2 linked regions of the Homo sapiens genome follow. The protein of the gene in region 2 purifies or fractionates together with the protein of the main gene of each other region. This does not show direct contact. Each region holds a gene or a part of one and is shown on either strand. Other genes may lie near its edges.

Region 1 (3,500 bases), on a different chromosome or scaffold from region 2:
TCAATGTTGACTTGAATACATTTTCTCCATACAGATTGGAGGCACACCATAACTGCAGTTTTGATTATGTTGAAATCTTTGATGGATCATTGAATAGCAGTCTCCTGCTGGGGAAAATCTGTAATGATACCAGGCAAATATTTACATCTTCTTACAACCGAATGACCATTCACTTTCGAAGTGACATCAGTTTCCAAAACACTGGCTTTTTGGCTTGGTATAACTCCTTCCCAAGCGGTAAGTGCACACTAGACCATGCCTATGAGGCTTGGTGGATTTACCCAGCTGCCTCTTTGGGGGCACCATGGTTCCCCAAGGAAATCAAAGAAGGGCCTCAGCGATGCACGGCCCATTCTCTTTCTCTTGGCACTGACTGTGTGGGCAGGCCCTTGGGAAGGCAGCAAAGGGTGCAGACTGGGGGTTCCACCTGGCCTTGGGTCTGCCACCAACTCTCCAGGGGACCTGGTGACTCTCCTTCAGAGCCACCCCTCTCCGTCTGGAGGTGAGGGGATCTGAGCTTGGCGATGTCTAGAGCCCCTTTCAGCTCTGCATGGAGCGGTCCAGTACCTCCACCCCAGCTTTTCCACATTTCTATTTGGCGACTTTAGAGGTGGGAAAAGGCCTGTGGGATGCTTGGCCTTTGAGGTTTGTTGTGGGACATTTGTTGTGGGACATGGCCATGATCTCTCAGTTAATGTGTCTTTCAGATGCCACCTTGAGGTTGGTCAATTTAAATTCATCCTATGGTCTATGTGCCGGGCGTGTAGAAATTTACCATGGTGGCACCTGGGGGACAGTTTGTGATGACTCCTGGACCATTCAGGAAGCTGAGGTGGTCTGCAGACAGCTAGGGTGTGGACGTGCAGTTTCAGCCCTTGGAAATGCATATTTTGGCTCTGGCTCTGGCCCCATCACCCTGGACGATGTAGAGTGCTCAGGGACGGAATCCACTCTCTGGCAGTGCCGGAACCGAGGCTGGTTCTCCCACAACTGTAATCATCGTGAAGATGCTGGTGTCATCTGCTCAGGTATGGCCCAATGCCATGGAAGGCCCATTTCACCTGTAACTTGCTATAAAGCAAGAGCTTAAGGCCAGTGGCTGATGGTGTCTGTGGCCCAGGCAGGAGCTGGTCATTGTGTCCTCGTGGCCTGCGCACTCCAGAAGAGCATGCAGGGGGCTGCTTTATCTTTGGCCAGTTTCTGGACCCAGGGCCATTATGCTGAACACTCATCTGACTAAAGGACCTCCAGCAATGATTTTACTTCTTTATGCTTCAGTTTCCTTGACTGTTGAGTCGGGGTGGCTATGATAGTACTTGCTACTGGTGACAATTGGGATGGTTTTAGAACAATCATGGTCAAGGAGAGAGTGATGGGTGTTATGACCTCAGCTGTAATCCTGATGACCACAAGTATGACGGGACTTAGGGAGCATCTGGGGAAGCTGGGAAGGCTTCTCAATAGCAATTGCTGGGTGGACCTGGGGACCCTCGCCGAGGGGGGTCAGGTTATGGGCCATGTAAGTGTATCTCTGTCTCATTCCGGCCCCTCCTCCAAGCCACATGTCTGTGACCTATGCTTTTTTTCTATTCCTTTTTCAGGAAACCATCTATCGACACCTGGTAAGTCCCTCCGATTTCCATTCCACTTCCCTGGTCTCCAGGTCTCTCCATTACTGCTGCCTAGACTGTGCAGGGCATGTTGCTCACTCTCCAAGGAGTTCATCTGTGGTACCATCCTCTACAGCCCCTGTCCCCTCCCCTGCCGGCCACCAGGATAGTGTGCCCCTCTCTGTGCTTCAGTGGCCTGACCCACCTAAGATTAGGATCTCCAGTCAGTCCCGAGGTGAGGCCCGCCACCTGTCAGATTTGACTGTCCTCACAGACACCAGACCCTGACCAGTGTTGGCCAAATGGGGCCCACTGCATCGCAGAGCTCCTCCCTGCCTGCCCCTGAGCTGCTCTGAGTGTTCCCAGCATGGCCCTGGCACCTCTCCAACACCCCCCACTGCCCCGCCCCCTGCTTGCTTTGTCATCCCCTCCTGGCCTCCCATAGCAGCAGCTTCAGGCCTGTGCCCTCCCATCCATTCTCCACTGTGCAGCCCCTTCAAGAGATTCCTCAGGGTCTTCTGGTGATGACCCCGCTCCTCAGCACAGCATGACTGCCAGGGCTCCCCATGATCTGCTCCCTATGCTTGGTGCCCTCTCCCCATCCTCTGCCTGCTCCATCTACACGGAGGTTCCCAAATCTATTCCACCCAGGTGCAGTTGCACCTGCTGTTCCTCTGCCTGGGACACCCCGTTTCTACCTCTTTGCCTGCCCCCTAATTACTGCCCTTTTTTCCCCACTCCATCTGGGGCAGGGGCCAGACTTCCAGGCTCCTCTCCTTCCCCAGGCTTTGGTCAATCTCATCCTTTTCCCAGTGTGCTGGGATTCGCTCTCCTCCAGACCTCCCCAAAGGCAAGTGAGCTCCCCAAGGGCAAGGCCTGTGTCCAGCTCCTCCCTGTGGACTCAGGCTTGGCACAGCATCTGCACAGCTCATGAGCAGTCGACAGCTGTGTCAGGGATGCCAGAAAACTGATCCTGATCTTTTCTTTTTGTCAACAGCTCCTTTTCTCAACATCACCCGTCCAAACAGTAAGTTCTGAGCTCCCTGACAAGTCTGTGGCAGAGTGGCCTGGAAATTCCCCTTCCCATTTCCTCAGTGACAATGGGGCTGGGGAGGAGATGGCTTCCCCCAAAGTGGTCTCCCTGCAAGAGTGCCCTGCCAGCCCTCAGTGGACGGTCCAGATCTAGGCCACCTCTTGCTCTTACTTGGTTTCTGTCTTGGGAATTATTTTATAAAATTTTAAAGTAATTTAAATTTAAAGTAGTCCGCAGGTAGACTGTGCAGTGTGCTCTGGGGGTCACCGACATTCCCACTTTTTGTCCTGACAGCAGATTATTCCTGCGGAGGCTTCCTATCCCAACCATCAGGGGACTTTTCCAGCCCATTCTATCCCGGGAACTATCCAAACAATGCCAAGTGTGTGTGGGACATTGAGGTGCAAAACAACTACCGTGTGACTGTGATCTTCAGAGATGTCCAGTAAGTGTGCGCCCAGAAGAATGCCTTGGGGCCCCACAGACCTTTCAAGAGGGAATAAATGGTGCTTAAGTGTGCGCCCAGAAGAATGCCTTGGGGCCCCACAGACCTTTCAAGAGGGAATAAATGGTGCTTAGAAAGCCAGGAGAGAAGTTTGCTGAGAGACATTTTTGACCTAGCCCAGAGGCATCCCGTGGAGAGTTGGGGAGGGGGCACGAGAGCCTTGGAGTGGACAAAAGCTCTGGTTTCAAGTCCTAGGTCTTTCACCAATTTGCTGTGTGACCACAGGAAGTCACTCAACTTTCCTGAGCCTCAGTCAAAAGAGGGGAATAAAATACCTGCTTTCCTCACCTCACTGTTTACTGGGAAGGTCACGAGAAACAGAGAGGAGAGAGAGGGAGAGAGATGTGAAAAT
Region 2 (3,500 bases):
TTGCACAGACGGGGTTTCACCATCTTGTGCAGGCTGGTCTCGAACTCCTGGGCTCAAGGGATCCGCCCACCTCGGCCTCCTAAAGTGCTGGGGTTACAGGCGTGGGCCACTGTGCCCGGCCCACTGTCCATTTTTCTATTGGGCTGTTGTTTGTTAATATGTTTTGGAAATAAGTTCCCATAGTCTTTTATATTTGTTTTAAGAATTAGAAACGCAACTTCTGGGACTAAGTTGGCTGGGTTTAAATCCTGGCTCACCACTTTCTAGCTATGTGACCTTTGGTAGATTCCTTAACTCTTCGTGTTCCCCTTTCATCAACAGTGCTATTCCCTTGTTTGGTTACTGAGAGAATTAAGTAAAATAAAGCACATAAAAGTTATCTGCATAGCTTCATGTAAATGTCCAATAAATGTTATCTATTATTATTACTGATTGCATAATTTCAATCACCATCATACGGAAGTGTTTAGCTTTGTAGTCAAATTTATTAACCTTCTGGAGGGGCAAGTGTTATTTCATATCTTGTTTATGCATATCTTCTTTATCCAAAAGTTATAAAACTATTTCCCAGCTGGACGCGGTGGCTCACGCCTGTAATCCCAGCACTTTGGGAAGCCAAGGCCGGTGGATCACCCGAGGTCAGGAGTTCGAGACCAGCCGGGCCAACATGGTAAAATCCCATCTCTACTAAAAATACAGAAGTTAGCTGAGCATGGTGGCGGGCGCCTGTAATCCCAGCTACTGGGGAGGCTGAGGGAGAAGAATTGCTTGAACCTGGGAGGTGGAGGTTGCAGTGAGCTGAGATCGCACCACTGCACTCCAGCCTGTGTGACAGAGCGAGAGTCTCTCTCAAAAAAAAAAACAAAAAGCAAACAAACAACAACAAATATGTATATATCCTCATATTCCTCACATGCAGGGATCACTTGCAGGCTGTTTTAAGTGCCTTAAACCTGCAGACGCTCTGTGAATCTGCAGATGCCCTTCCCAAGGGGAAAACAGACACTCCTCATTCCCAAGGTCTCCTAATTCAAATCATTTCTGTGACACAGTGGGTGAAATGAATGCTCCCAGAGTTAAAAGACAGACTCTGGAGGCACACTTCCTGGATTCAAATCCCAGCTTCAGCAAGTCTCATAACTTCTCTGAGCCTCAGTTTCATCATCTGTAAAATGGACATAATAGTAAAACCTGCCTGGTGGGATTGTCGTGAAGATTAAATAAGTTGATATTTAAAGCACTTAGAATCGTGCCTGACATGTGGTAAGGGCCAAGTCAGTGTTAGTTTTAAATATTATTAATTAATGAACTCACTCCAGCAGCTTCTCTATCCCATGGGTGGCTGGAGGGAGCCTGACCACTGCCTCTTCTCACTTTCCACTCCTCTTCTCTTTTTTTGTTTTTTTTTTGAGACAGTCTTGCTCTGTGGCCCAGTCTGGAGTGCAGTGGCACGATCTCAGCTCACTGCAACCCCTGCCTTCTGGGTTCAAGTGATTCTCCTGCCTCAGCCTCCCAAGTAGCTGGGATTCCAGGCACCTGCCACCACACCTGGCTAATTTTTGTATTTTTAGTAGAGACGAGGTTTCACCATGTTGGCCAGGCTGGTCTCAAACTCCCGACCTCAGGTGATCCACCCAGCCTCCCAAAGTGCTGGGATTACAGGCGTGAGCCACCGTGCCCAGCCCAACCCCTCTATCTCTTCAACACCCTCTCTCTCAGTCATCAGTTTCCTCTTCTCAGCAGCCCTGTGGACAGACAACAGGCTGGGTCTAGGGCCATAGCACGGTAACCGGAAAAGGTAAAGAGACTCACCTGAGGCCACCAGAGACCAGCCTGGTCATCAGGCCTCTAAGCCCACTGTCCTTTCATGAAATTTTTGAGCTGCTTCTGCAAAGATGACCTTTCTCTTCACCTACTGCCAAACACACACACACACACACACACACACACACACACTTCTCCCTCCGTGGCCCAGGACTTGTAGTAATAATCTTGACCACTACGGTAAGAACCATACTATGGTAAGGGCCAGTGTGGTGGCTCACGTCTGTAATCTCAACACTTTGGGAGGTCAAGGCTGGTGGACCACTTGAGGTCAGGAGTTCGAGACCAGCCTGGCCAACATGGTGAGACCCCCCCCAACACACCCCCACCATCTCTATTAAAAGTACAAAAATCAGCCTGGCATGATGGCAGGTGCCTGTAATTCCAGCTACTTGGGAGGCTGAGGCAGGAGAATCACTTGAACCCAGGAGTCAGAGGTTGCAGTGAGCCGAGATCATGCCATTGCACTCCAGCCTGAGCAATAAGAGCAAAACTCCGTCTCAAGAAAAAAAGGAAAAAAAAAGAACCAGTGAAGGGAAATGTTGACTAAACCACCATTATCTATTTAATCGAGAAGGTTGTGGGTGTTGAACCAAGATGGTCTCACTTTGGCCACAGATATGGCTGGAAGATCAGCATCAGCTGCTGTCTCTTGGCCACAAGATTGAGGGGCAATTGGAAACCATGCATGTTCTAAAGCCATGATCTTCTAACTGTTGCTCACGTAACTCTTTTGTCTTTTTTTTTTCCTTTCTGTGGAGAATAGGGTCTCACTATATTGCCCAAGCAGGTCTCGAACTCCTGGGCTCAAGCTATTCTCCCGCCTCTGCCTCCCTAAGAGCTGGGATTACAGGCGTGAGCCACTGCACCTGGCTCTCATGTCACTCTTAAAGAAGTTTCTAGAACTATGTACTCCTCCACACATTTTCAGCTAACATTAAAATGTTCTTATCCCAAGTTTGAATCGTTGCCAAGGATGGGATTTCCAGCGTTGTTGTGTATTTTTTTAAACTGTATTTTCATCCAAACTCTTGGAGCTACAGGGTTGAGTTTATTCAGTTTATGGGAAATGTCTACAGTAGAATCTAAGTAATAATGCCTGTCCTCTTTTGCCAAAGCAATTAGACGTCAAACTGATTATAAGAAAAATGTTGGCTTCATTTTCTTTCATTGAAAGAAATGTGTTGACATGCATCCCTGAGACCGCTATCTCACTTTGAATTCTAATTTGTAGATAAATAGTAGACACTGCACACGGGAACAGCTAGATAAGGCTTGGCTCCTTGCCTGCGCTTGTAGCCTGGGGCAAATCTCCCCAGCACGTTTCTCTTGATGCTCTCTGCTTTGCTCCCAAGGTCCCCCTGGGAAAAGCCGAGCATCCACGCAGGGGCCTCTGTTTGATACCCCAGAGGTTTTTACACCCAGGAGCAGCACATCCAGGATGCGGAGAGGAGTCCCTTTCTGTTTACCATGGTAGACAGGGAATTGTACAATGGAAGGAGAGGAAGGAGAACCACAGGCCGACCACAGGCTCCCCCTCAGGCAGGTCATTTTAGGAAAAAAACATACAGGCTTGAGAATCTAGAAATAAATCAGTCTCTCAAAACTCTCTGTGTTCATGTAACCCCTGGAAAGTGACTGTGTATCCCCAGGGATCCCTGTACCCCGGTTTAAGA

The links. The genes of interacting proteins can lie anywhere in the genome.
Region 1: the proteins of SPNS3 (region 2) and DMBT1 purify together in Homo sapiens (affinity purification with mass spectrometry; one large-scale study listed by BioGRID and IntAct). This does not show direct contact.

Annotation. Positions count from the first base shown.
Region 1 is NC_000010.11:122,630,254-122,633,753, forward strand, and holds part of DMBT1 (scavenger receptor cysteine-rich domain-containing protein DMBT1 isoform e precursor), read left to right. Parts: intron 1-34; coding exon 35-237; intron 238-707; coding exon 708-1,028; intron 1,029-1,601; coding exon 1,602-1,622; intron 1,623-2,607; coding exon 2,608-2,637; intron 2,638-2,937; coding exon 2,938-3,088; intron 3,089-3,500.
Region 2 is NC_000017.11:4,440,440-4,443,939, reverse strand, and holds part of SPNS3 (protein spinster homolog 3), read right to left. Parts: intron 1-3,500. UniProt on the Homo sapiens protein: Sphingolipid transporter.